Homo sapiens: one gene and its partners. The protein of the gene in region 1 purifies or fractionates together with the protein of each later gene. This does not show direct contact. Each region holds a gene or a part of one and is shown on either strand. Other genes may lie near its edges. The genes, in order: TSPAN8, TMEM68, CPT1A, TMEM87A, TMEM161B, USP34 and SLC30A7.

What was found.
Region 2: the proteins of TSPAN8 (region 1) and TMEM68 purify together in Homo sapiens (affinity purification with mass spectrometry; one large-scale study listed by BioGRID and IntAct). This does not show direct contact.
Region 3: the proteins of TSPAN8 (region 1) and CPT1A purify together in Homo sapiens (affinity purification with mass spectrometry; one large-scale study listed by BioGRID and IntAct). This does not show direct contact.
Region 4: the proteins of TSPAN8 (region 1) and TMEM87A purify together in Homo sapiens (affinity purification with mass spectrometry; one large-scale study listed by BioGRID and IntAct). This does not show direct contact.
Region 5: the proteins of TSPAN8 (region 1) and TMEM161B purify together in Homo sapiens (affinity purification with mass spectrometry; one large-scale study listed by BioGRID and IntAct). This does not show direct contact.
Region 6: the proteins of TSPAN8 (region 1) and USP34 purify together in Homo sapiens (affinity purification with mass spectrometry; one large-scale study listed by BioGRID and IntAct). This does not show direct contact.
Region 7: the proteins of TSPAN8 (region 1) and SLC30A7 purify together in Homo sapiens (affinity purification with mass spectrometry; one large-scale study listed by BioGRID and IntAct). This does not show direct contact.

What each region holds. Positions count from the first base shown.
Region 1 is NC_000012.12:71,148,000-71,151,499, forward strand, and holds part of TSPAN8 (tetraspanin-8), read right to left. Parts: intron 1-3,500. UniProt on the Homo sapiens protein: Structural component of specialized membrane microdomains known as tetraspanin-enriched microdomains (TERMs), which act as platforms for receptor clustering and signaling.
Region 2 is NC_000008.11:55,749,379-55,752,878, forward strand, and holds part of TMEM68 (DGAT1/2-independent enzyme synthesizing storage lipids), read right to left. Parts: intron 1,780-3,500; coding exon 1,586-1,779; intron 1-1,585. UniProt on the Homo sapiens protein: Catalytic subunit of the alternative triglyceride biosynthesis pathway, which mediates formation of triacylglycerol from diacylglycerol and membrane phospholipids.
Region 3 is NC_000011.10:68,839,117-68,843,135, forward strand, and holds the start of CPT1A (carnitine O-palmitoyltransferase 1, liver isoform), read right to left. Parts: upstream 2,801-4,019; 5' UTR 2,659-2,800; intron 1,302-2,658; exon of another isoform or gene 436-1,301; intron 1-435. UniProt on the Homo sapiens protein: Catalyzes the transfer of the acyl group of long-chain fatty acid-CoA conjugates onto carnitine, an essential step for the mitochondrial uptake of long-chain fatty acids and their subsequent beta-oxidation in the mitochondrion.
Region 4 is NC_000015.10:42,263,434-42,266,933, forward strand, and holds part of TMEM87A (transmembrane protein 87A isoform 1 precursor), read right to left. Parts: intron 771-3,500; coding exon 657-770; intron 1-656. UniProt on the Homo sapiens protein: Potential monoatomic ion channel gated by mechanical force, implicated in normal touch sensitivity through the generation of mechanically activated currents.
Region 5 is NC_000005.10:88,266,046-88,270,068, forward strand, and holds the start of TMEM161B (transmembrane protein 161B), read right to left. Parts: upstream 2,801-4,023; 5' UTR 2,679-2,800; coding exon 2,676-2,678; intron 1-2,675. UniProt on the Homo sapiens protein: Essential for maintaining normal cardiac rhythm in the developing heart and for neonatal survival.
Region 6 is NC_000002.12:61,188,088-61,191,587, forward strand, and holds part of USP34 (ubiquitin carboxyl-terminal hydrolase 34), read right to left. Parts: intron 2,572-3,500; coding exon 2,431-2,571; intron 2,328-2,430; coding exon 2,184-2,327; intron 983-2,183; coding exon 823-982; exon of another isoform or gene 623-822; coding exon 15-622; 3' UTR 1-14. UniProt on the Homo sapiens protein: Ubiquitin hydrolase that can remove conjugated ubiquitin from AXIN1 and AXIN2, thereby acting as a regulator of Wnt signaling pathway.
Region 7 is NC_000001.11:100,976,090-100,979,173, forward strand, and holds part of SLC30A7 (zinc transporter 7), read left to right. Parts: 3' UTR 1-3,084. UniProt on the Homo sapiens protein: Zinc ion transporter mediating zinc entry from the cytosol into the lumen of organelles along the secretory pathway.

The DNA of each region.
Region 1 (3,500 bases):
TATTTAGTGTAATCAGTCTTGGGCTTTAGCGCAGAGTAAATGTTACTAAATTGCTATTTTCTATTACATCTCTTTCCAAATATCCTTCCAATCTACATTTGAGATAATAAAAAATATAACTATTTAGACATGTGACTTCTTTATTTCCAGACCTAAAATGGTTAGCCATTTAACCATGATTTTCCCATGCTTCAATTATCCATTTTTACTTATACCTTAATCATTTTGGATATGTTTCAGTAAATTTTACAGTGTGAATACCTGAAGATCTCTTTCTCTCTTATTCATTTGTGAAAGGCTCTGAATACTCAGCAGACATTGTTTCATTGTCTTCTGACTTTCAGGGTTACAATAGGAGAAGAATATCACCAGCCTTATTTTCGTTCATGCATTATTTGCTTGTTTTCTTTTTTGTCAGTTGTATCTAGACATTTGTAAGATGTTTATTTATCTTTTAACTAAGTTAGTAGTTTTCTTAACATTTATTTAGGCATAGATGTCTTCTTTCACTGGGGTAGATCAGGCACTTGCCATCTGCATACAGGTATGTTTTCAGCTCCACAAAATTTCCATATATTAATTTGATTATTATTTGTGTTCCATTTATTTTGTCCTCTTTTTCAGGAGTACAGCTTATTTTGGGTTTCCATTCTCTGTTGTCTGTATCTATTATCTTCTTTCACAATATTCTGATTTCTTATTTGATTTTCCTGTGGGAAAGCTTATCAGTTTGGGATTCTATGTCACTGTCTTTATTTAATGTGATCTCTACAGTGAAGTTTAATTCTGCTATTATGTTTGTAGTTTACTTGCAGTCCTTACATATTTTATCCATTTCCCTTTTTATCTCATCCCGTTGTTTTCCAATAAATTTTATTTTCTCTTATGGCCTCCATTCACTGTTTCATGAGAGGTTACTTTCTAGCATCACATTGTGGATACCAATTTCTACATACATTTTTTCAGGATTCTAGAATATTTATTTCAGGGATGTGTGCTTGTCCTCTAAGTCTTCAGGGTGGCAATATCTTTCACTTGTTCAACAGTATTTTTTATTAGGTCTTATGCTAAATTTCCTTGAAAAAGATGAGACCAATTCTGATTTAGAGTTCATTCAGAGTAGAATGTGCTGAGGCAGGTGGATCACCTAAGGTCAGGAGTTCAAGACCAGTTTGGCCAACATGGTGAAACCTTGTCTCTACTAAAAATACCAAAAAAATTAGCCGAGTGTGGTGGCACGTGCCTGTAATCCCAGCTACTCAGGAGGCTGAGGCAGGAGAATTGCTTGAACCCGGCAGGTGGAGGTTGCAGTGAGCTAAGATCACGCCATTGCACTCCAGCCTGGGCAACAAGAGCAAAACTCTTGTCTCAAAAAAAAAAAAAAAAAGAGTAGAATGTGCATTCCCTTTACAAGCATGGCCTGATGTAGTTCTGATCTACTAAGCCTCATGCGATATTGGATTTTCTGATGCTGTAAACCAGCAGAGTAAATTAAAATCTTCAACTTTTAGCAGACTCTGCAATCATGGTTTTTAAAAAATCTTCAGCCCCATATTGTTGCAGGAAGTCAGGGACCCCAAACAGAGGGACTGGCTGGAGCCGCGGCAGCGGAACATAAATTGTGAAGATTTCATGGACATTTATCACTTCCTAAATAATACTCTTATAATTTCTTACACCTGTCTTACTTTAATCTCTTAATCCTGTTATCTTCGTAAGCTGAGGATGTACGTCACCTCAGGACCCTGTGATAATTGTGTTAACTGTATAAATTGATTGTAAAACATGTGCGTTTGAACAATATGAAATCAGTGCACCTTGCAAAAGAACAAAATAACAGTGATTTTAGGGAACAAGGGAAGACAACCATAAGGTCTGACTGCCTGTGGGGTCGAGCAAAAAGAGCCATATTTTTCTTCTTGCAGAGAGCCTATAAACGGACATGCAAGTAGGGAAGATATTGCTAAATTCTTTTCCTAGAAAGGAATATTGATATTAATACTATGGGGAAAGAATTGCATTCCTGCAGGGAGGTCTATAAACAGCTTCTCCGGGAGTGTCTGTCTTATGTGGTTGAGATAAGGACTGAAATACGCCCTGGTCTCCTGCAGTACCCTCAGGCTTACTAGGATTGGGAAACTCCACCCTGGTAAATTTGGGGTCAGACCGGTTCTCTGCTTTCAAACCCTGTTTTCTGTTGTTTAAGATGTTTATCAAGACAACACATGCACCGCTGAACACAGACCCTTATCAGTAATTCTGCTTTTGCCCTTTGCCTTATGATCTTTGCTTTTGCCCTTTGCCTTGTGATCTTTTTTGGACCCTTATCAGGAGTTTCTGATTTCGTCCTTGTCCTGTTTCCTCAGAAGCATGTGATCTTTGTTCTCCTTTTTGCCCTTTGAAGTATGTGATCTTGTGACCTACTCCCTGTTCTTGTACCCCTTCCCCTTTTGAAATCCTTAATAAAACTTGCTGGCTTTATGGCTCAGGTGGGCATCACGGTCCTACTGATATGTAATGTCACCCCCGGCAGCCCAGCTGTAAAATTCTTCTCTTTGTACTGTTTCTCTTTATTTCTCAGCCAGCTGACACTTATGGAAAATAGAACCTACGTTGAAATACTGGGGGCACGTTCCCCCAATACTATATTAATGGTGTTTATTGTATTGAGTGTTGACATGGTTTAGCTGTGTCCTCACCCAAATTTCATCTTGAATTGTATCTCCCATGGGACCCAGTGGGAGATAACTGAATCATGCGGGTGGTTCCCCCATACTGTTCTTGTGGTAGTGAATAATTCTCATGAGATCTGATGGTTTTATAAGGAGAAACCCCTTTCACTTGGCTCCCACTCTCTCTTGCCTGCCACCATGTAAGATGGGACTTTCATCTTCCACCATGATTGTGAGGCCTCCCCAGCCACATAGAACTGTGAGTCTATTAAACCTCTTTTTATTTATAAATTACCAGTCTCAGGTATGTCTTTATCAGCAGTGTGAAAACAGACTGATACAAGTGTTAAGTGTACACTCAATGTGTCTCCATGATTGCATTCACGTGCATCTTATTTTTTTTTTTTTTTGAGATGGAGTCTCACTCTATCACCCAGGCTGGAGTGCAGTGGCGCGATCTTGGCTCACTACAAGCTCCGCCTCCCGGGTTCATGCCATTCTCCTGCCTCAGCCTCCTGAGTAGCTAGGACTACAGGTGTCAGCCACCACGCCCAGCTAATTTTTTGTATTTTTAGTAGAGATGGGGTTTCACCGTGTTAGCCGGGATGGTCTCGATCTCCTGACCTTGTGATCCACCCACCTTGGCCTCCCAAAGTGCTGGGATTACAGGCATGAGCCACCGCGCCTGGTCTCATGTGCATCTTCTAACAAGCACTCAATATAACTGCTGCAAATTCTAATTTTTAAATAACTCTAAATTTAGGGAAAATAAATCAACCACATTGTTTTCCTTACACAAATAGGGCCTCAGTAACCACTAAAAGCCTA
Region 2 (3,500 bases), on another chromosome or scaffold:
AGCCTTAAATTTTGTTCACAGCTTATAATTTTGTGAGGCCTATTAAGGGATTTTCCAGAGGGGATACTTGTGCCACTTACAACTATACATATATACACATATATATTACTGAAAGACTTCCCTCACGTATCTGGGAAGCCCCTTCAGTCTTAGACGTCAGCAGACTCACTGTGCAATGTAGTCAGGAATGGCAACAGTACCGGTTGCCTCGAGTTCTGAACTGTGTGCTCTGCTCTACTGCTGCCTTGCTGAATGACCAGATCCCTTCCATCCCTCCATCTCTCTGTGCCTGAGTCTCCTCATCTGCAACATTGGAATAATTATATGCATCACCTCCTTACTGAATAGGAGTATAAGATAAAGTGTTTAAAAGTGCTATGAGATGTTGGGGTGGCACAATATTTATCAAACTTATAAGATTTCTGTTTGTTTTTAAACTTATAAAAAGGTATTTCTTAAACTTTCTAAAGTTTTATATAAAAATCTCAATTAAATTATCTAGTTTATTTAAATTAATTATCTGGAAACTCGAGGATTAGAAAGAGTTATTTTCTCTGCATCATTTATCTCTTTCAGTCCTTCTTCCAAGCAATATGTTGCCGAAAATGTAAACTTAAGGATGAGGAATTGGAATCCCATGGCATATTTATGTGATTTTAAATCTATTTTTGTCATCTTTATCTTAAACTTTTGAAAAAACAATTCTTTCAAAATATAAACTTGAAAGTTGAACCATCTTTGATTAGGATTTTAGTTTTTATCATTGTTTTCATATACATTATATTGATTATTCTTAATTTTTGTATAACTGCATATATCCTTTTGTATTCTATATTATTCATATAGTCTAGGTTTTTGTTTTCTATGTCAGTGCTTAAGACTGGGAAATAAGTAAAATGTGCCATAATTCATTTTCTATACAACTAAAAAACTAAGTTACTGACAATATTCTCTAACTGGCCTGGAAAAAGAACAATACTCTATCAAACGTAATTTCTTTTTCTGACAATCAGAATTAAAATAAACAGAAAACGAAGCAGAAACTTTCCATAGGTAATAGATAAGTGTTTCATAGGCTAAAGTACAATATGGAGACCAAAAGGCTGAGAAATACTTTCCGAAGGCAAAGTAAAAGAACAAAATGACATTCAAATTCTCCAGTCTTTTTTTTTTTTTTTTCTGAGACAGTCTCACTCTGTCACCCAGGCTGGAGTGCAGTGGTGCGATCTCAGCTCACTGCAACCACTACCTCCTGGGTTCAAGCAATTCTCCTCCCTCAGCCTCCCGAGTAGCTGGGATTACAGGCATGCACCACCATGCCTGGCTAATTTTTGTATTTTTAGTACAGATGGGGTTTCATCATGTTGGCCAGGCTGGTCTCAAACTCCTGACCTCATGATACATCCACCTCGGCCTCCCAAAGTGCTGAGATTACAGGCGTGAGCTACCACACTCGGCCTACATACTAATTTTTAAGGTATTGCAGCGAAAGTGTCTAAGTTCTTATACAATTTGGCTCATTACTTAACCATTTATTTTAAATTTGACTAAGCTTTACTTCAATAATTAATTTTATATAACTCACCACTTTTGCATCAATTGCAACCTGAGCAAAGCCTCTGCGATGACCCCATACGATGTTATAAGTTTCATCACTAATTAGGGCTTCTCGAACTCCACCTGGTGAGATAGCTAACAAGTGGCCACTCCTCAGAATTTCAACACATTTTTCTCTTGGTCCATGTAGAGCACAAAACACATCCAGTAATAAACTAAACCCTGTAAGAAACATGAGTATGAAGTTACAACATAAGTATTTCTTGTTTAATTCTTCAAAAGAAAAATCTTCACAAACTACATAGTGTACTATTTATACTTAAATCAGTAAACTTTTTTACTTGTTAAAATCAACAAAAACTCTAAAGGTTAACTTAAGCTTGATATTAAGCTTCTCTGGCTCAAATTCTTAAGTAAAACTCACAACAATCTTGACAAACAGGTATTCTTCTCCCCACTTTACAAATGAGAAAACTTGGGCTTACAGAATAATAGCTTGCTCAAAGTCACACATCTAAGAAGTGGCAGGGCAGAGATTCCAGAGATAGGATTCTAATGGGATTCAGAAATGATATCCCATCAGCAATCAGAAATCTAATCTTCCATTAACCCTATAAAAAAGAGAATCACTCAGGAGAATGTGAATCAAACTACGCTTAGCTCTTCCAAAACTGGCAAGACCATGATCAAATCTATTTAAATTAAAAGTTAGATAATGCTAATTCTATAATTAAATTTTTAAAATAGCAAACATCATTAAGAGATTTTAATAAAGTGAGAGTGCTTGACTCAAGAGCAGCTAATTCCAAGTCTTAATATTATACAGCTTTTCAAATTACAACTGTTTATGGATGAAAGAAATAATCCTGTTAGTAATTAAATATTTTAATCAAATCCCATACTGGAACTTCTGAGGACTGATGTTAGTATACATTATTCCCTGAGAATGGGAAATATAGCGATGCATTTGATGTTAAAAACTACGCAGACTGGTCAGGCACGGTGGCTCACGCCTGTAATACCAGCACTTTGGGAGAAAGAGGCAGGTGGATCACTTGCGGTCAGGAGTTCAAGACCAGCCTGGCCAATGTGGTGAAACCCTGCCTCTACTAAAAATACAAAAATCAGCCTGGCATGGTGGCACGTGCCTGTAATCCAGCTACTCAGGAGGCTGGGGCAGGAGAATGGCTTCAACTCAGGAGGGGGAGGTTGCAGTGAGCCAAAATTGTGTCACTGCACTGCAGCCTGGGCAACAGAGCAAGACTCTGTCTCAAAGAAAAAAAACAAAAAACACTATGCAGACCAACCAAACTTCTCATTAAAGATCTGAGGCAAGTTTATAAATAGCATTAAGATTAAAATAATTGTCAGACCGGGTGTGGTGGTTCACACCTGTAATCCCAGCACTTTGGGAAGATGAGCGGGCAGACCACCTGAGGTCAGGAGTTTGAGACCAGCCTGGCCAACATGGCAAAACCCCATCTCTACTAAAAATACAAAAATTAGCCGGGCATGGTGGCGCACGCTTGTAATCCCAGCTACTCAGGAGGCTGAGGCAGGGAGAATTGCTTTAACCCGTGAGGCGGAGGTTGCAGTGAGCAAAGATCAAGCCACTGCACTCCAACCTGGGCAACAGAGCAAGACTGTCTCAAAAAAAGTAAAAGAAAAGAAAATAATTGTCACCCCACATTATATTAAATGTTCACTGATTCAACTAGATGCATTCTCATAATGAATGAATGAACAGGGAAGGATTCATACATAATAGGATAAAATATAGGATCCCTTTTTTTTTTTTTTTTTTTTGGAAACAGGGCCTTGCTCTGTCACCCAGGCTGGAATGCAGGGGCACAATAGTAGCTCACTACGGCCTTGCTCTACTGGGCTCAAGCGATCCTCTCACTCAGCCTCCCAAGTAGCTGAGACTCCAGGCACTGTGCCAC
Region 3 (4,019 bases), on another chromosome or scaffold:
ATTCTGGCCTGCCAATAATAACCATGCAGAGTGACTAAACATTTTTTCCAACAAAGGAAAAAATGCAAACGATCAAAGTGCAGAAGCAGCCCTTGGCCCGCGCAGGCTCCGGTTTCCGCCTCCCGCCGCCGCTGCCACCGCCCCTGCGCCTTTAGATTTCGGGCAGCAAGTTTAATTGCTCGCTTGGAAAGCGTCCTCGGAAGGGCACCGCCAGCAACTGCGGCTTCGCGCCCCGCCCCTTCCCCCAAGCCCCGGGCGGCGTCACGTGACGGCTGAGAAAAGTAGGGGAAAGGTCAGCAGCAGCCCCGCCCCCAGGCTGGCGCGTCCCAGGCGCTCGGATCCTGTTCCACCCGCCGTGCCCACAGAGACCTTCCGGAGCGAGTTGGCGCGCGTCCCTGTGGCCACCCCAGCGACAGCGGGAGAAATGCAACGCACCTCTCCGTGGGAAGGTCGAGCCCTGCGGTGCCCAGCTGTGGGGACAGCTCGGTGCTCAGTGCTTCTGATGACAGATGCTGCATCCAACGAGCCAGAAACGCAGGCACCGCGCTCAAGAGCCCAGGGCGCGTCTAAAAGGGGCTCACTGTGAAGCCTCAGTGAAAACTGACGGTGTTTTTATGAATGAGCACTCGGGGCCAGGGTTGGGTAAGGGCAGGCCCTCGTTCCAGGGCTCCCCGGAGGCCCAACTTGACCGCTCGGTGACCACTGGTCCGGGGCCGGGGCCAAACGCAGCAGCCGCAGCAGTATCGGAAGGGACCCAGTTTAATTCTCTTCCCCTCCAGGGTAGGCGGCTTGTTTTTAGTACCAACTCGAAACGTTATTTTGGCCTGTGCATGATGCCAACTTCTGCCACTTTGAAACAAAGTGTGTGCACTCCCAAACCTGGCCCTTTTTATTGTTTGATTCCAACTGTTAAGATAGGGTTCAAGTGCAAGGTCTAGGCTAGCAATGCTTCACAGGAAGGAAACCAGTAATTTACATGCGAAAAGCAGTCCACAGGCTCTTGGTATTGAGGCAAAACCAATCCAAAGAACCAGCTGCGAATGCTGATAGTCCCCAGACCAACTGACAGCTGGATGTTCGCTGGCCTCAGCGGTGTGCATTCTCAGCGACACTTATGTCCTCAATTTATTGCTACGTTCACTCGGTCAGAGTCGCCTTAAAGAATTTGGAAAGGCCCGGGGGTGGGGGTGCTTCCTGGCATAAATAGAAGACCAGTGCTCAGCCATTTTTTATTCACTTGGTTTGTGGCTTAGAATGAAATAAACATGCTTGCATATCTGGAATGACCAGAAACCGGACACCTGTGGAAGAAAATGGTGTAACAAAATACAACGTTGCAAAAGGTAAAACCGATTTTCATTTTATTCGGTAACTTACAAAGTTACCAGCTTCCTACTAAAATCTGCCCTTAAATATTTTATAACACACGGAGCCGAGAGGAACCGAAAGCCTGTGCCGAGTTGGGAATATTAACTTTGTTATGTATTTAACCTGGTAGGTAGTTGGGATTTTTAACTCTCTGAGTTGTTTTCTTTTTTTAAAGTAAGATCGGCCCTCATCTTTGAGTTCTGCGGCTTTAACGAAAGCCAAGGGCGGATTTACATTATAAAGACGCTGACCCATGGCCTCTCCTGACAAACCGAAAGAAGCCGGCTGTTGGCTGGCCGCGGCGGTGGCTCCGAGAAGGGGCTGCCCCGCGTGGCCCTGACCGCACCGTCGGGCTCGCAGGCCAAGTTCGCCAGGGCACGGCCACGTGACACCCCCACCCTCCCGCGGCCCCGCCGCTCCCAGCCCGGCACGACCTTGGGCACATGCTCCGCGCCCACCCGCCCTTGACCCAGCGCTGCACGGGAGAGGCTGCGGGGCGCTCCCAAGCAGGCACTGGGCCCGGCACCCTCATCCTGCTCACGGCAGCGCTCGGACCGCGCCTGGAGTCCCTGCGCCAAGGGCGTGTCCCGACGGCTGCACCGCGAGGGCGGGCATGGGGAGGGGGACCGGGGAGACGGACGCTGGGATGGGGTCAGCGGCGCCCTGCCGAATCCCGAGGGCCGAGCACCCCTCCCTCAGCCGCACTGCACCTGCCCGTAGGTGACCAACCCACGGGCGGACCCCCAGACCCAATCCTCTCCAGAGCCAGGGTGGGATGGGCAGGGACAGGAGCCGGAGGCCCTACTGGCCCCGGGCGAAGGCATCCTGGAAAGCATCCAGAGCGTCCAGCATCCCTCCCGCGGCCACCCGCAGGCTGACCGACCCCTGGGCAGACCCTCAGACTCAATCCAGTCCAGGGCGGATTAAGGAGTGGGAGACAAGGGAGCCGGTGGCCCCGCTGGCCCCGGGCCGGAGGCGTCCAGCCAAGTCCGGAGGGCCGAGCATCCCTCCCGCGGCCGCACGGGACCCGCCTGCGGATGGACCGACCCCCGGTGGACCCTCAGACCCAATCCCCTGGGGAACATGGGGAGCCCCGGCCTCTTTCTGGGTTCAGGATCTCCACAACCCCGCCGTCCGGGGGGAATACCGGGGTTCCTCTCGGCGCCCCGGTTCCGGCGGCGTCCCCCACCCGGTCCGGTTCCCGGCAGCCCCGCGCCCCGCCCGTCCCCGGCCCCCGCAGCCCGCAGGGCCGCCCCGCCACCCTCCCCACCGCGGGCGACCGGGCCTCACCGAGTCAGCTACGGAGGTGCGGCAGCGGCAGCGGCAGCGGCGGCGGCGGCGGCGGCGGTGGAGTGAACGAGCGGCGAGCGGGAGCCGGGGAAGGAGGGCCGCGGGCGAGGCCGAGCGCACCCGACGCCGGCAGCAGCGGATTGGCTGAGGCGGGTCCGGCTGCGGCGCCTGCAGGCGGGTGACTCCCGGCGCGCGGAGGGCGGGCCCGGGGCCTCGGCGGGGCGGGGCGTCCGCGGGGCTAGGAGGGGAGGGAAACTGAGGCTCGAGCGGGTGCTCGCGTCCTCGACCTCTGCCGGAATGGGGTCTAGGACGAGATTCCTCACCCTCCGAGCCTCAGTTTCCTCATCCGTAAAACGAGCCATCTCGTGGAGGCCGTGCGCATAAAATCGCTTAGCTCCGTGCCTGGCTGATCCTCGCGACTTATCTATCGGCATTGCCCCGTGTAATGCTCCAGGCACCCCCTGATGGTATTCACCCCTGACTCTTTCATGCAGACAAGGGTCGCGGGCCAGGAAATAAGTTACCCCACATCACCGAGCTGAGAAGCAACCGATCCACAGGGAGTGGTGGGGCGCGCCTGTAATCCCAGCTACTCGGGAGGCGGGAAGTCGCTTGAAGCCAGGAGTTCGAGGCCAGCCTGGGCAACGTAGCGAGACCCCGTCTCTAAAAAAAAAAGCGCGGGGAAGTGATAGATCGGACATTGGGTCCAGATCTGATTCCACAGCCCATGCCCCAAATCAGACCTTATACCACGAGTGGCAGTCATCGCGATCCAGAGGCAGCGTGGCTCCTCCTCATCTAGCTAGGATAAAAATGCCTCACTTGGGGGGCTTTGGTGAGATTTACTAAAATAATTCTTCCAGCGTCAAGAACATAATAGGTGCTGGGAGAGGAGTAGCTGGAGGCCAGGGCAGAGCGACCGAGAGACCCTTGTGCTGGAGCTCGGGAGAGGGGCCGGGAGCGGGAACTGAACATCCACCGGTCCCAGGAGTCTAGGGCGAGCGCAGCTGCAGGGGACCCAGGGGGTTGAGGGGGAGGGAGAGGGGCCCCAAGCGTAACAGGAGGGCCAAGGGGGTCTTCCTGACCGGGAGCCACCCCTCCCCTATCTTTGCCCGCAATGCTTCCAGGCGCGAGCTGGCGGCTCTGCATACAGCAGGTGCTCCATAAATGCACCGATGTTATGAACAAAGACTCTTTTAAACCTCTTTTATGAACCCTGCTCTTTTTAAGTTCGACCACTTCTTCTAGTTATGAAAAAATCCATGTTTGCAACCATCCTTCTTTCTGTATCATTTAGTTGTTACCGCAGAAGAATTTAGAAGAGAAAATGAAAGTTCTCCTTTGATCCCGCCCCCCACCAC
Region 4 (3,500 bases), on another chromosome or scaffold:
GTTTGGGATGATAAAAGTACTAGAGATGGGGCTCAGCCCGGTGGCTCACACCTGTAATCCCAGCATTTTGGGAGGCCAAGGTGGGTGGATCACTTCAGGTCAAGAGTTCAAGACCAGCCTGGCTAACATGGTGAAATCCTGTCTCTACAGAAAATACAAAAAAAATTAGCCAGGCGTAATGGTGTGAATCTGTAGCCCTAGCCACTTGGGAGGCTGAGGTGAAAGAATTGCTTAGATCCGGGTGATGGAGACTGCAGTGAGCCGAGATTGTGCCACTGCACTCCAGCCTGGCGGACAGAGCAAGAATCTGCCTTGGGGAAAAAAAAAGTACTGGAGATGGGTCGATGGCTGCACAGCAATGTGAATATATTTAATGCCACTGTATTATACACTTAGAAATGGTTAAAATGGTAAATTTTATGTAGTGTATATTTTACCACAATAAAAAAATGGGGGTTTGCTTTTTACACACAAAGCAAAGTACAACCTCTCTTTGATGAGTATGTATAAGTGGCTGACTATGTACCTATCAGAACATGCTTCCACTTACTTCTGCCAAAAGAAATACTTGAGAAGTCGGAAGTGGATACAGCCAAAAATATATACATTCCAATTTTTGCCTATTCTATTTATCTCCAATCACTTTCAAAGATTACCTGTGTTTTAAAGAGTTCACTGCAGTTCTGGAACAATTTTGATGATGTTTGATATTTCCCAGACAAGCCTCTTTTTTCCTTAAGTTTTTCCAAATACAACTCTACTTCTTCTGCCTGGAAAAAGAGATAATACAGAGTAGTTAACTCACCTTCCAAAAAATAAGATACTAAGAGCACAGCACAACAAACAGTTCACCTGCAGTACAGATACAATTTTGAGTTTGCTATTTTAAAAATGAACAGCATCAGATAAAGGCTCTATATAAAAATATCTAAGAATCAAACACTATCAGACTCAAGGACTATTAGACTCTAGTCTTTGGCTCACAAGGCATAGTTCTACTAACAATTCTGAGTAGACTGGGAAACTGCCAGAGTGTAGAGGGTTTTGTCACATTAAAATATACTTAAAAGATTTACTTGACCAAATTAACAACATCAACAAAAAAATATTCATGCTCATAAGCTAAGATAGAGCAGAAAATTGTTGCAAGCACAGAACTAGGATAATCTTCTTAAAAATGCAAATTGAGAGATAGAAACAGAATGGAAAAGGTCTGAAAAATTCAACTCAGAACTATATATATGTGTGTGTATATATATATATATATTTTTTTTTTAACTTTTATTTTAGGTTCCGGTATACATACGCAACTTTGTTATATAGGTAAACTGAACTCACAGGGAACTGTTTTACAGATTATTTCATCACCCAGGTACTGCCTAGTACTCAAGAGTTATTTTTTCTGATCCTCTCCCTCCTCCCACCCTCCACCCTCAAGTAGGCCCAGTGTCTGCCGTTCCCCTCTTTGTGATCATGTGTTCTCATCATTCAGCTCCCACTTATAAGTGAAAACGTGGTATTTCGCTTTCTGTTCCTGTGTTAGTTTGCTAAGGTTAATGGCCTCCAGCTCCTTCTGTGTTCTTGCAAAGGAAATGATCTCATTCTTTTTTATGGTTGCATATGTATCACATTCTTTTTTATGGCCGCATATGTACCACATTTATCCAGTTTACCATTGATGGGCATTTAGGTTGATTCCATGTCTTTGCTATTGTAAACAGTGCTGCAGTGAACATATATGTGCATATGTCTTTACGGTAGAATGATTTATATTACTTTGGATATATACCCAGTAATGGGATTGCTGGGTCAAATGGTAATTCTGTTTTTAGCTCTTTGAGGAATTGCCACAGTGCTTTCCACAGTGGTTGAACTAATTTACACTCCCACTAACAATGTATAAGCATTCCCTTTTCTCCACAACCTTGCCAGCATCTATTATCCTTTGACTTTCTCATAATAGCCATTCTGATGTGAGATGGTATCTCATTGTGGTTTTGATTTGCATTTCTCTAATAATCAACGATACTGAGCTTTTTTTTTTTCATATGCTTGTTGGCTGTATATCTTCTTTTGAAAAGTGTCTGTTCATGTCCTTTACCCACTTTTCTATGGGGTTGTTTTTTGCATATAAATTTGTTTAAGTTCCTTATAGAGGCTGGATATTAGACCTTTGTTGGATGCATAGTTTGCAAATATTTTCTCCCATTCTGTAGGCTGTCTACTCTATTGATAGTTTCTTTTGCTGTGCAGAAGCTCTTAAACTTAATTAGATCCCATTTGTCAATTTTTGCTTTTGTTGCAATTGCTTTTGGCGCAATTGCTTTTGGCATCTTCATCATGAAATCTTTGCCACTTCCCATGTCCAGAATGGTATTGCCTAGGTTGTCTTCCAGGGTTTTTATAGTTTTGGGTTTTACATTTAAGTCTTTAATCTATCTTGAGTTGATTTTTGAATATGGTGTGAGGAAGGGGTCCAGTTTCAATCTGCATATGGCCAGCACGCTACCGCAACACTATCTACTAAATAGGGAGTCCTTTCCCCATTGCTTGTTTTTTGTCAGCTTTGTTAAATATCAGATGGTTGTAGGTGTGCGGCCTTATTTCTGGGCTGTCTTCTCTGTTTCATTGGTCTTTGTGTCTGTTTTGGTTACTGTAGCCCTGTAGTACAGTTTGAAGTCAGGTAATGTGATGCTTCCAGCTTTATTCTTTGAGCAATATATTTTCAACGCTCAAGTATTCTAGATTATGGCAATTCTCAAAAGTGTGGCCGTTGAACCATAGACAAAACTATTTTCATGGCTGGGCACAATGGCTCACGCCTGTAATCCCAGCACTTTGGGAGACTGAGGCAGGTGGATCACCTGAGGTCAGGAGTTTGAGACCAGCCTGGCCAACATGGCAAAACCCCATCTTTACTAAAAATACAAAAATTAGCCGGGTGTGGTGGCAGACACCTGTAATCCCAGCTACTTGGGAGGCTGAGGCTGGACAATCACTTGAACCCAGGAGGCAGAGGTTGTGGTGAGCTGAGATCGCGCCACTGCACTCCAGCCTGGGTGACAGAGTGAGACTCCATCTCAAAAAAAAAAAAACTATTTTCATAATAATAATAGTATGCTATTTGACTTGTAACGATATTACAAAAGCAATAGTGGGTAAAACTGTTGCCCCTTATCAGGAACTAAGGCAGTGGCATTTAATTCTACTAGCAGTCATATTCTTCATAGTCACAAACTGGCAGTTTTTAAAAATGCCACTTTTATGTAAGAATATCCTAGATAAAGCAGTAAAAATTATTAATGTTATTAAATCTGGACCTTTTGAGTACCTGACTTTTTAAATAATCTAGGTGACAAAATGGAAAGCATGCAAAATACAATAAATTATTGTCTTGAGATAAAGCACTCTGCAATTGCTTTGACTTGTGAGTTAAACTAATCATTTTTTCCACGAAACACCATATTTACTTGAAAGAATGACTGAAAAACTACCATTAC
Region 5 (4,023 bases), on another chromosome or scaffold:
AGACTTGTCTTCACAACAACTTGAAAGCATAAAAATTAAGCGTGAGTTCAGTATTTTCAGTCTGGATCATAATCCTATTCTCCTTCATTCATAATACAAAAACCTTGTTATAGGCACAGGTATCTATTGAGTATCGGTATACATAATGTATGAGAGAATGAGAGCACAGAATTAGTTTATCATTGATTAAAACAAGAATTAAATCAAAACATTCCAAGAGTTGTGTTCCATTCTGGAGCAGTATTTAAGACAGTAGTGAAAGACTTGGCCAAATATACAAAGATTCCAAGTACTATCTATGTGACTTATGAAAAAAATGAAAAAGAGAATGATAAAAGAAATCAAACTTAAGCCAAAATGGCATGGAAACAAAACAGTGGAAATCAGACTAACTTTTATTTAATCTGAAACATGTAACTATCCTCAAAAATGTTGAGTAGTCATGGAATCATAAATTTAAGAAGGTGCTTTAATACCCATCAAGTCCCACTTCTCTTACCCAGGAGGAATTTGGAACTCTTATCAAAATTGAGTGACTTTTCCAAATCCATATAACTAACAATGGGCAGAATCTGGGTCCTCTGGGGTCAATACTAATGTTCTTTTCATAATATCATTAGGCCCCAGCAATGCAAAACAAGTTCTGATTTCAACAAGCTGAATCCTCAATAAATTCAGCCCATGTTCACTTCATTTAATGGTTAAACTCTTCCCTTTGAAAAATTCCAAGCATTAACCACACTTGCATATACAGACATTATCAATTTCATAGCTGGGAAAGATAAAACTCAGCCAAGATAATTAGCTCAGAAATATAAGCACTTCCAGAAGGAAAAGAGCCAACTAGTTAGTTCCAAAATGACATTCAGAAAAACAGCATAAGATTACATTAGTTCCAAACATTAACCATCTCTTTTGAACCGACAGGATAAGCAGGATTCTACTTCTAGTATTCCAAAACACTGAGAACAAGTTCATGTTCAGCTTTTCTGTGACTATGATGAACTTAAGTATTTTAATTATACTTTACCTTCAACTTTTCAGACCAAAAAGTCAAAAATTAATCTTAAATTTAAAAAATGAAAATATGAGTTTTAGTCCAGACTGCCAAACTACTGTTACTTTAGAAAAATCACTGTCAATTTCTAGACCCCAGATTCTTTCTTCTGTAAAAATGGGGATGGAAGAGTGATTACTAGGCTTTGGTTTCTCCCAGTTCTGTTTTCCCTATCCTTGTCTAATTTCACTGATACAAAAGAAAAACAACTTTCTTAATACAAACCATATTATTCACTGAGGCTTAAAAAAAAAAACTTTAAAGAGATAGGTTATCTGGTAAAGTGCACCAGGAACTACATTATTTTGAAGGTCTTTGTTCTACATTCAGCTAAGTTTCTAAAAGTCATTCAAAAGCCAATCACCACACACATTAACTGAATGTTGGCAATATTTGGCCCTGAAAATATAAGACAAACTGAAGCTAAATTCCAGGACAGAAGCCTCTGCAAGTGAGGGTTTGAAATCTTGTATACGGTGAAGAAACTGACAATAATGAACTTCACCAGAGCCCCGTGATCTTGAAAAACAGCAAAGGTTAAGAAACCCCTTGCCCCCGTTTGTGTTCTGAGAAATTGGCTTACTGCAAAGAATCATCTTTCCTGTAGAACTTAGATAAGACTAAGGGTTGATCCATACCCCCCTACCCCTTGTTTACCTATAACAAGGCCATAACTAGACCCTTCTAATTCCCATCCTTTGCTTCGTAAATGACTTGCTGAAGTACCTGTCCCACAGATCAATCGGAACAAAATACTTATTAACCAAACTTTAAGATTCTCTTCTCTCGGGTACCTGAATTTTGTCCTTCCCTCAGTCTGAAACAACATATACAAACCTCTCCTAACAGCTCCTCCTCAGAATACATGGGCTCAGGGTAAAACATTATCTGGTTACTGCCGGATCATACCCATATTTTCATCCCAATTCCTGACATCTTATTTACCCCTACCAACAAAAGACAAACCCTTTCTGCCTAACCTTTAAGGTGCATGCAAATCTTACGGTCATTCTCCCTACTGCAACAGTTCCTTCAACCTTCCTCCACACCCCTGCAATATTCCTTTCGAATAAAGTCTGTCCTTACTAAACTCGGGTTTTTTATTTGACACCCTTTTCAATTATGAAATGGCTAAGTGTAAAGAATAAGGGGACTACCGTTTCTTTAAATGACAGGTGTTGATCTTATACAAGGAGACCCGTTGTGTCCACCTGGAGAGGCTAAAAGCATTTCTAAGATCTGAAGTTCTTGGCCACTGTTCCGCGGATGGAGAAGGGGGCGCAGAAGAGGTGACTGACCCGGCAAGGTCAACTCTGGGATCACCTGGCGCCACAGGCCATACACAGTAAATGGGCCATGAACAGGCAGGCTACCCAGTCCATACTCCCTGACAGATACGCCCCTGCCTCCGGCCCGCTAGTCTCCCAGACAGGTAGGCGTAATGCTGCTTCCTCAGGGGCTCAGACACCCTGAGATAGGTGGTGGGTCCTACCCAGCAGCTCATCCCAACGTCTCAACTCCATTCTGAGCAGAGCACCTGATGGCTCTTTTCACAGTACTGACCTCCCCGCCCTTTTCGCCCCACCGTTGTCACTCCTGCCCTCACAGAAGAACTCACCATGGCGCCTAGGATAGGTCGTGGACCAGACACCCTGGAGTTGCCGGGGCAGTCCCAAACCTCTTACCTCCCGGTCCTTGAGCCGAGAGACTCTCAAACAGCGAAAGAGAGGGTCTTCCGGCTCTGCCGGAAGTTGTGCGCGCGCGGGACAGGAAGTTCCTCCCTTCTCCAGAGCGCCGTCGACCCCACGCCACGCAGAGGTGAAGATACGCAGGACGTCCTCTAAAGCAACTTCCGTGGGTGCCAGGTTGTGGGCTGGGGGCGGTGCTGACCTTGAGAGAGCGGAGGAGGCGCAGGCGCAGCACAGGTACGTGGGCGGGCGGATCGTGGTGGCTGCGCTTGCGAGGACCCTGAGGTAGATTGGGTGGTTTCAACAGGAACGCATCCACTGTCTGAGAGGTGACGGAGGCACACGTTGGTGTGGGGAGCGGGAGGGGAGAGGGAGGGGGGCGGGTGGGGGGCGGGAGGGGGCCAGGGGTGGGAGTGAGGGTGCGCGATGGGAGTCGACTCCAGACCCAGGTGATTTAGAGAGAGTAAAGACCACCTTTGGCCGTCATTTTGTCTCAGCTTAACTGACGCCCTCTTGTTACCCTCTAGTTTTCCTGACTCGGTCCCTTATTAGCATATCCTCATTTCCACAGACCTGTCCGTCTGTTGCTTCTGTTCCCTGCCTTAGTGGGTACCGTAGCTCTACCCTCCTTCCGGGCAATGGAATCTCATAGTGAGAAGTTTCTTCACTATTCACAGGTGGCAATTGAAGCCGGAAGAACATCTACCAAGAGCAGAGAACCCAGGAAGAAAATTCTGCCTCTTTAATACGTTCCAATATGGACGTTTTCCATATAGATACCTATCTATATAGATAGATGCTCTGGGATCTGACGGTCCTGGACACCTGTATGGCTGTGTGCTGTGGTCTTTGCCTAGCCTGCGGTTCACTTTTGCTCTGGCCACCACCTCCCCTCATGTACAAACCGCGTCTCTGCTCTGCCAGTCTTGGCCCCCGTCAGGCAGCGGTTCACTCCCTCACCAGGGAAGTCTAGATAGATAGATATAGATAGATATCGATCGATAGATATAGATATATATATAGATAGATAGATAGGTAGATATATGGATAGATATAGATATTTGGATAGATATGTAGACGTCTATCTATAAATATATCGATATATCGGGGTTCTCAGCCATCCCAAAGAAGCTTGCACAGGGCCAGTTGCTTTATGTCAGGAAAAGGGACACAGACTGAGTGTATGAGGGTTTTTTTTTTCTATAGATGTATAGATATTTATATCAGATGCAAATAAGTGAAACTCTCATACAACTTTTAATTTTGTGTTTTTTCCAA
Region 6 (3,500 bases), on another chromosome or scaffold:
TGCTACACCTAATGTCAAGAAGCAGCTTGGTTTCCTTTGCCAGATATCCTTGTGACGACATGGATTGTAGATTCAATGGTCCTACACAGGGTATCTAAAATGTCATGTTGCTGCATATGACTAAAGAGTCCTCTGGAATGGCCACAACTGAGAGATAAAGCAACCTCAGGGTCCTGGGAGGGCAAAGCTTGGCCATCACAGCTTCTCAAGTCAGCTAAGTCAGACAGAACTGCAGAGATAGAAGTAGAAGGGAACTCAGATTCTTCCTCAGCTAGGGTAGAATCCTTGGAACAGTGGAGGTCTTTAAATTCTTTACAATCGTCATATCTACCATTGTTGGACTGTTCTTCTGCATGCTGTGACCTGATATTTGACATGTCTTCTGAAAACGAAGATGGAACTTCCATTCGGTATTCTTTAACAGAACTATTTTCAGGGGAAGGAAGATCTTGCTCAGTTCCTGGATCAATAATTGAGGAGTCTCTGGTCTCATTGTCAGAAGTGCTCGTTGGGGTCAGGACCTCCCTGGTTTCTGTTTTCATGTCACTGATGCAGCTGTCTACAGTGTGCTCCTCATCACTGCTAACACGCCGCCTTTTAATGGGAGTTGCTCCTTCATCATCTGTGAAAACACATGCCAAAAGGGAAACTTCTCTGAAAGTCATTAAGATCACGTTAGGGGGGGATGTGGGAAGTTAATTTTGTTTCTAGCATTTATATTTAGGAGGTTCAGCTGAACACACAACTCTTAAACCAGTTACACCAAGTGTATTACTCCCTCCTCCCACCCTAAAGGTAATGATAGTAGTCCATAAAGCTAACCTTTAGTTTTTCTTTCTTTGGCTTCTTGCTCTTGGAGTGAGTTTCTCTGTTGCAGACAAGTCCTGCATTTGCTTAAAAGCTCTTGCAGAGTTGGAATTAGAGCTGGGTTTAACTGTTTGGGAGTGTGTACTGACAGGAGCAAAGCGAGTGCCCTCAGGTCCTACAAAAACCCAGATAGGAACATTTCAAATTCTAAAGCCAACACTTTGATGCAGTTGTTTACAGTTAATTGCAGATGTTTATTTTCCCAGGAATCCATTCTTTCCTAAGAATACCCTGGTTTCTCTGGGATTCTTAGAATGATAAAACCAGAAAGCCAGTGTTAAGATACTACAGCATTTCATTAGTTGTTTTTTTTTTTTGTTTTGTTTTTGTTTTTTTTGAGATGGAGTCTTGTTCTTTGGCAAGGCTGGAGTGCAGTGGTGTAATCTCGGCTCGCTGCAACCTCCACCACCCGGGTTCAAGCGATTCCCCTCCCTCAGCCTCCCAAGTAGCTGGGACTACAGGCGCCCGCCACCACGCCTGGCTTAATTTTTTCTATTTTAGTAGAGACAGGGTTTCACCATGTTGGCCATTGAGATGGTCTCAATCTCCTGACCTCGTTATCCACCGGCCTCGACCTCCCAAAATGCTTGGATTGCAGGCATGAGCCACCGTGCCCAGCCTCATTAGTTCTTAAAGTCACTAATAGCATTATTTTATGCCCACGAACCAGTAAGTCAGACCAAAGCCTGAAATAGTGTTTTCTGAAAAATGGAAAAGGAAATATAAGAATTTTAAAAACAAACCTTGAAATCAGTTTCTCAAGTTAAAATTCTGATGGATGTCACAAATAGTAAGGTCTTCCTTACTGAGCTCTGTCATCTGTTTTGGCTTTTATGCATACTGTGATTTGGGAGGCTGCTGCTCAACATTCTAGCCCATTTCCAGAGTGTTCCATTATTCTAGGACATGGCTGTCATGGGAGTCTGCACAAGGCAACTAATGCTCTAGATTTAACTGCCTTTTTTAAATCAGTAGATCATTAATTGTTTCAGTTACATAGGAGCCATAGGCAGTAATAGAAACATCACAAGTATTGTTTCCAAAAATATACCCAACTAGAGATAAGACCACTAAGATGTTCCCTTTATTACCTTTCAGCATTTAATGATACCAGCTTGTAGCTTCCAAGGTGATAGAGTGTGCTGTGTACATACAAGGCATAGTAAACGTGTATTTAAAACTTGTTTTTTTGTCGCACATGGCTTAAGAGTTTGAATCAGTAAGTTAAAGTTACGAGAGTAAAATCATATGAAGGCCACACAGTTAACTGAAGGACAGTTTAAAAGTGTGTGCCGCCGCCTCTGCATAGTTCTTACCCCATTTAAAGAAGCACTTGCTTTGGAAATTTCAACTCGGTTGGAGAAATCAGACTGTAGGTTCTGATACTGGCTTATCAAGTTTGTAATAAGAGTGCTGATCAAATTGGCACAGTTTGCTTCAGAAAACACTTGACTTTGAACCTGAAAAAGAAGATTTAAAAAAATCTCCAAAAGACCAGCATAATGAAACCACAAGCATTAACTAATTAGAAATGACACACTGAGTTTCCAAAGTACTACGTACCTTTAGAAGGAAATGTGTCATGAACGTGTAGACAATGTTGTTGTTTAAAAAAGTTCTTTCATCCATTAGGATACATTTAATATATTCTGCGAAAACAGGATCTTCACACAAAAGCTTGATGCAGTTTTTTGACATAGCAGACTAAAGTGGGGAGAAGATGGTTGAGCACTTACGGTTGAGCACGGAAAAAACTTACACGGAAAAAACTTACACAGAAAAAACATACACTTGTGTATGATGGAATCTGAAGCCACTGAAAATCCTACTTGAAAAGCCATGTCTAACTCACCTATTGAATTTTTAGTTAACAGCAACTATTTTTCATACAGTAAAATGTTACTAATTTAGATTAAGGGAGTGCTGGGGGAAGACACTGATGCCGAAACTGAACAAATGTTTTAAAAGAAATGCAGGTTTATTATCCAGCACTGAGAGAGTTAACAAGGACTGGAAAAATAAGGCTAACAAAGAATAGGATGTGAATGTTTTCAAGGGCCAAATTAATGTATTTATAGGTAACCAGAGCATATGTTGCAAAAAGACACATTTTAAGAATCAAAATCAATTCTCCAAAATGTTTTAAACTTTACTGTATATTCTCGCTAGCAACAGTAATTCTGTAAATACCTTTTCCCCCCATAAACACTGCAAGGGTAAACAATAAATCTTCTTTCCTAATTATCTCACACAGAATCAGTGGTCTCAATATATGGAAATTTTACTAAAATTTGGTTTTCCTGTTTTCAAATAGTCATGGCTCTTAAACACAAGTAGTATGTCTTTAAGCAGATACACTCCATAGATTTAAATGTGCATTTTAATAATTTATATGGAAAAAAGCAATATATTTTTTAAATAGGACAAAATTTAGATTATATATATATATATATGCATATGTGTATATCTTATTAAAGTATGCAGCTGTCATAAGTAAATTACTCAAGGTCAGTCAAGAAATTAGGATTCAAGTAGGACCAAGACCCAGGTCTTGAGATCCTTAACACTAGGAAAAACCTGCCTTGGTCTACCAGTCACAGCCTGTGCCTCTGCCTCTGTTTCTTGCTCAGGAT
Region 7 (3,084 bases), on another chromosome or scaffold:
TACACAGAAAATTTTGACTTAAAACATCTGCTGAATTCCAAATTTCTGTAATAGCTACTGTATCTGTGATAAACTTTCCTATATCTTTCCTTGCCATTTCTATGGATTTTATAATGAAAGAAAAAGGCATTGGAGACTGAAGGCAGAAATGGTTGTGACAGTGCTGTTTGGCTTTTTCATTCTTCAAATGCCAAGTCATCCACTTTGTTTTCCTGTTTAGGCTTTGCACAAATACAATTGCTTTCAGGAATCCTAAAGCAGCATTTTATTGAGTTTGAATTATTAAAGGTACAGAGGAAATGTGGTGATGTAGAACTTTTCCTAACACAGGTATCTAGGAAGTAAGTGCTGAGTTGATTTTCTAGGTTCTTACGTATTTGAAAAATAAAATTGCAATTCGAGATAAGTGCTTGAGCACTCTACTTAAGTATTCTCTGTGTTTTATGAAGAGAAAATGATCTGATTTTCCCTTATACTTCATTTTACAATACATATTCCCTTTTAACTTAAAAAAATTGTAAATGTGGGAGAAAAAACCCTGCAGGATGGAAACAATTATTAAGAATGTAGATCAATAAGTACTTTTTAGTGATGTGGCAGAAATCCCTGTTGATTCTAAGTTTTAGAGTGTCTTTTCCCCTATTTCTGACCTACAACTATAAACTACTCTCTATTAGGAGAACTAGACCACTTTCTTCATTCTTTTCTAAACTGCTGCAGATTGCCGTGAACTCTATCAATAGTCTCTTTTCCGCAGGCAAAGTGGCATTTTCTAAACATGTTTGCTTACTGCCAGGTGGTTTGAAATCTATGATTTACTGCAGTAGTATGTGCTTAAAACAACTGTTGAGGTCTTTTAAGCAGGAAAGTTCAAAAGGAAGTGTCCTGATAATGGTACTGGTTTTTCTACAAATATAAGTAGTCATTAGAAGTTTGCAACCACCACCAAGTCTGAGAGAACTCTGGGATATTCTGTGGGTTTTGGCATATTAGATAGAGAAAATGACAGATCTAGATGAAGGGAGCTTTTGGATGTGTGCCTTTAAAAACTGATTATGTATAAATACTGATATTTCACATACGGAGATATTTGAAGACCCAAGTCTGCCTTTCACAGAGCCCTCCATTCCAAGTTTAGTTTTTGTCAAAATATGAATCATTTTATTTGACTGTACTATCAGTACACAAATGCATGAGTATGTTTATACAGTGTTAGACTGATGTGAATTTGCATTTGTTACATTACATTGCCAGCGCATATCATTTAGCAAGTTGGCATTAACATTTATGCTTTAATTAAATGCCAGTATACCTATGTGTGCAGCAGTAAAAAATTAGTGAGAAAAAGCAACTTTTTGTCACTCTTAGGAAATATTTTGTCTTATTAGTGTTCTTGGCACATGTATATTACTAAAGTAGATAATTCCAATGAGAAATACTACCAGATTATTGTTATAAAATTAATTTACAATGTCCCTGATATTGAGCTAACTCTTAAAAAAACCAAACAAAACTCGTATCTGAGTGTAACTTTGCCAATATTTTAAAAGCCAAAATATTCTCTGGACAACAAATTTGTATTGCTCAGGGACAGTTTACCTTGCCTGGTAAACCTTCCCAAACAGAAATATAGCTATACTATCTTTGGTTTTGTTTTTTTGTTTTTTTTGTTTGTTTGTATTAGATGGAATTTCACTCTTGTCGCCCAGGCTGGAGTGTAGTGGCGCAGTCTCAGCTCACTGCAACCTCCACCTCCCGGGTTCAAGTGATTCTCCTGTCTCAGCTCCCTGAGTAACTGGAATTACAGGTGCACGCCACCACGCCCGGCTAATTTTTGTGTTTTTAGCAGAGACAGGGTTTCACCACGTTGGCCAGGGTGGTCTTGGACTCCTGACCTCAGGTCATCCTCCTGCCTCGGCCTCCCAAAGTGCTGAGACTACAGGTGTGAGCCACCGTGCTCAGCCACTAGCTTTGGTTTTTTAAACATAGATTATATTCCTCAAGATGAAGGGCTTAACATATCCACAGCTTCCTCAGTTTGCTAACTCCCCATGCATCTTTGTGAAGGACAGTATCTAGTTTATCTGTAGGTCAGTGTTCCTTGTGCTGTCATTTCCCTTATATCTGGAATTTGTCAGCATTCCTGAAAACCTACACGTGTATATCAGTAACCAAAATGCTATGCCTTTTTTGCACCTTTGTACAGCAGCCAAATCATGAACTCAAAATGTATTTGATCACAGTTCTATAATGTTTTTACCTACCTATTATGGAATAATCAGTTTTTACAGAGATTATTAATATGGTAGAACCCTGTTATGTAATTCCAAAACTTAAGAACCATATTTACATTGCTTAACACAGAATTTTACATCTAAGCAAGGACTGGCTTTAGAAGCAGTGTAGTTCTACCTCTCATTTTACAGATGAGAAAACCGAAGCCCAGAAAAACTCTCATTTGCTCAAAGTCACAGAGAAAATTAGTGGCAAAGCCAAAAAGATTCAGATCTTCTGACTCGAAGTTGAGAGTTCTTTATACTCTATTATGCTGCCTCTCCAGTGTAATATTTGCCTTTCTGTAAATGGGATTAAATATGATTTGTAAATAAAGGACATCTGACCTCCTTTTTTGGTACATTAAGGCACTTTATAAATGGACTTTTATTGTCTCATTTTTCGTATATAATTATTTCCATCATATTCTTTATGGAAGATGCAATTAATTTTAACTTTTTTACTCTTATAAAACCAGTTCCTGACATTTTAAAAAACAATATCTGTAAAATGGATCCTTTTATGAGTGAATTTTTCTGCTAATTGCCCAAGGCTAAATCCAATTTAAGGATTGCTTAGTTTCTTTATTTTGTTTATGGTCTCTGAACTGGTATTTTTTTATAAACCAGGCTAATTCACAGGTCATACCATTTCATTCTTGTCGTGTTGGCTTCCAGTCACTGGAAAAGCTTTTGCATTTTAAAGATTTTTAGAGCCATGCAAAACTGGGCATTAAATGTTGCATAAAGCAAATCTTTTAAGTAAGGTAAAATGTTGAAGTCTTAACCAGAATTCCTACAACTAATTACT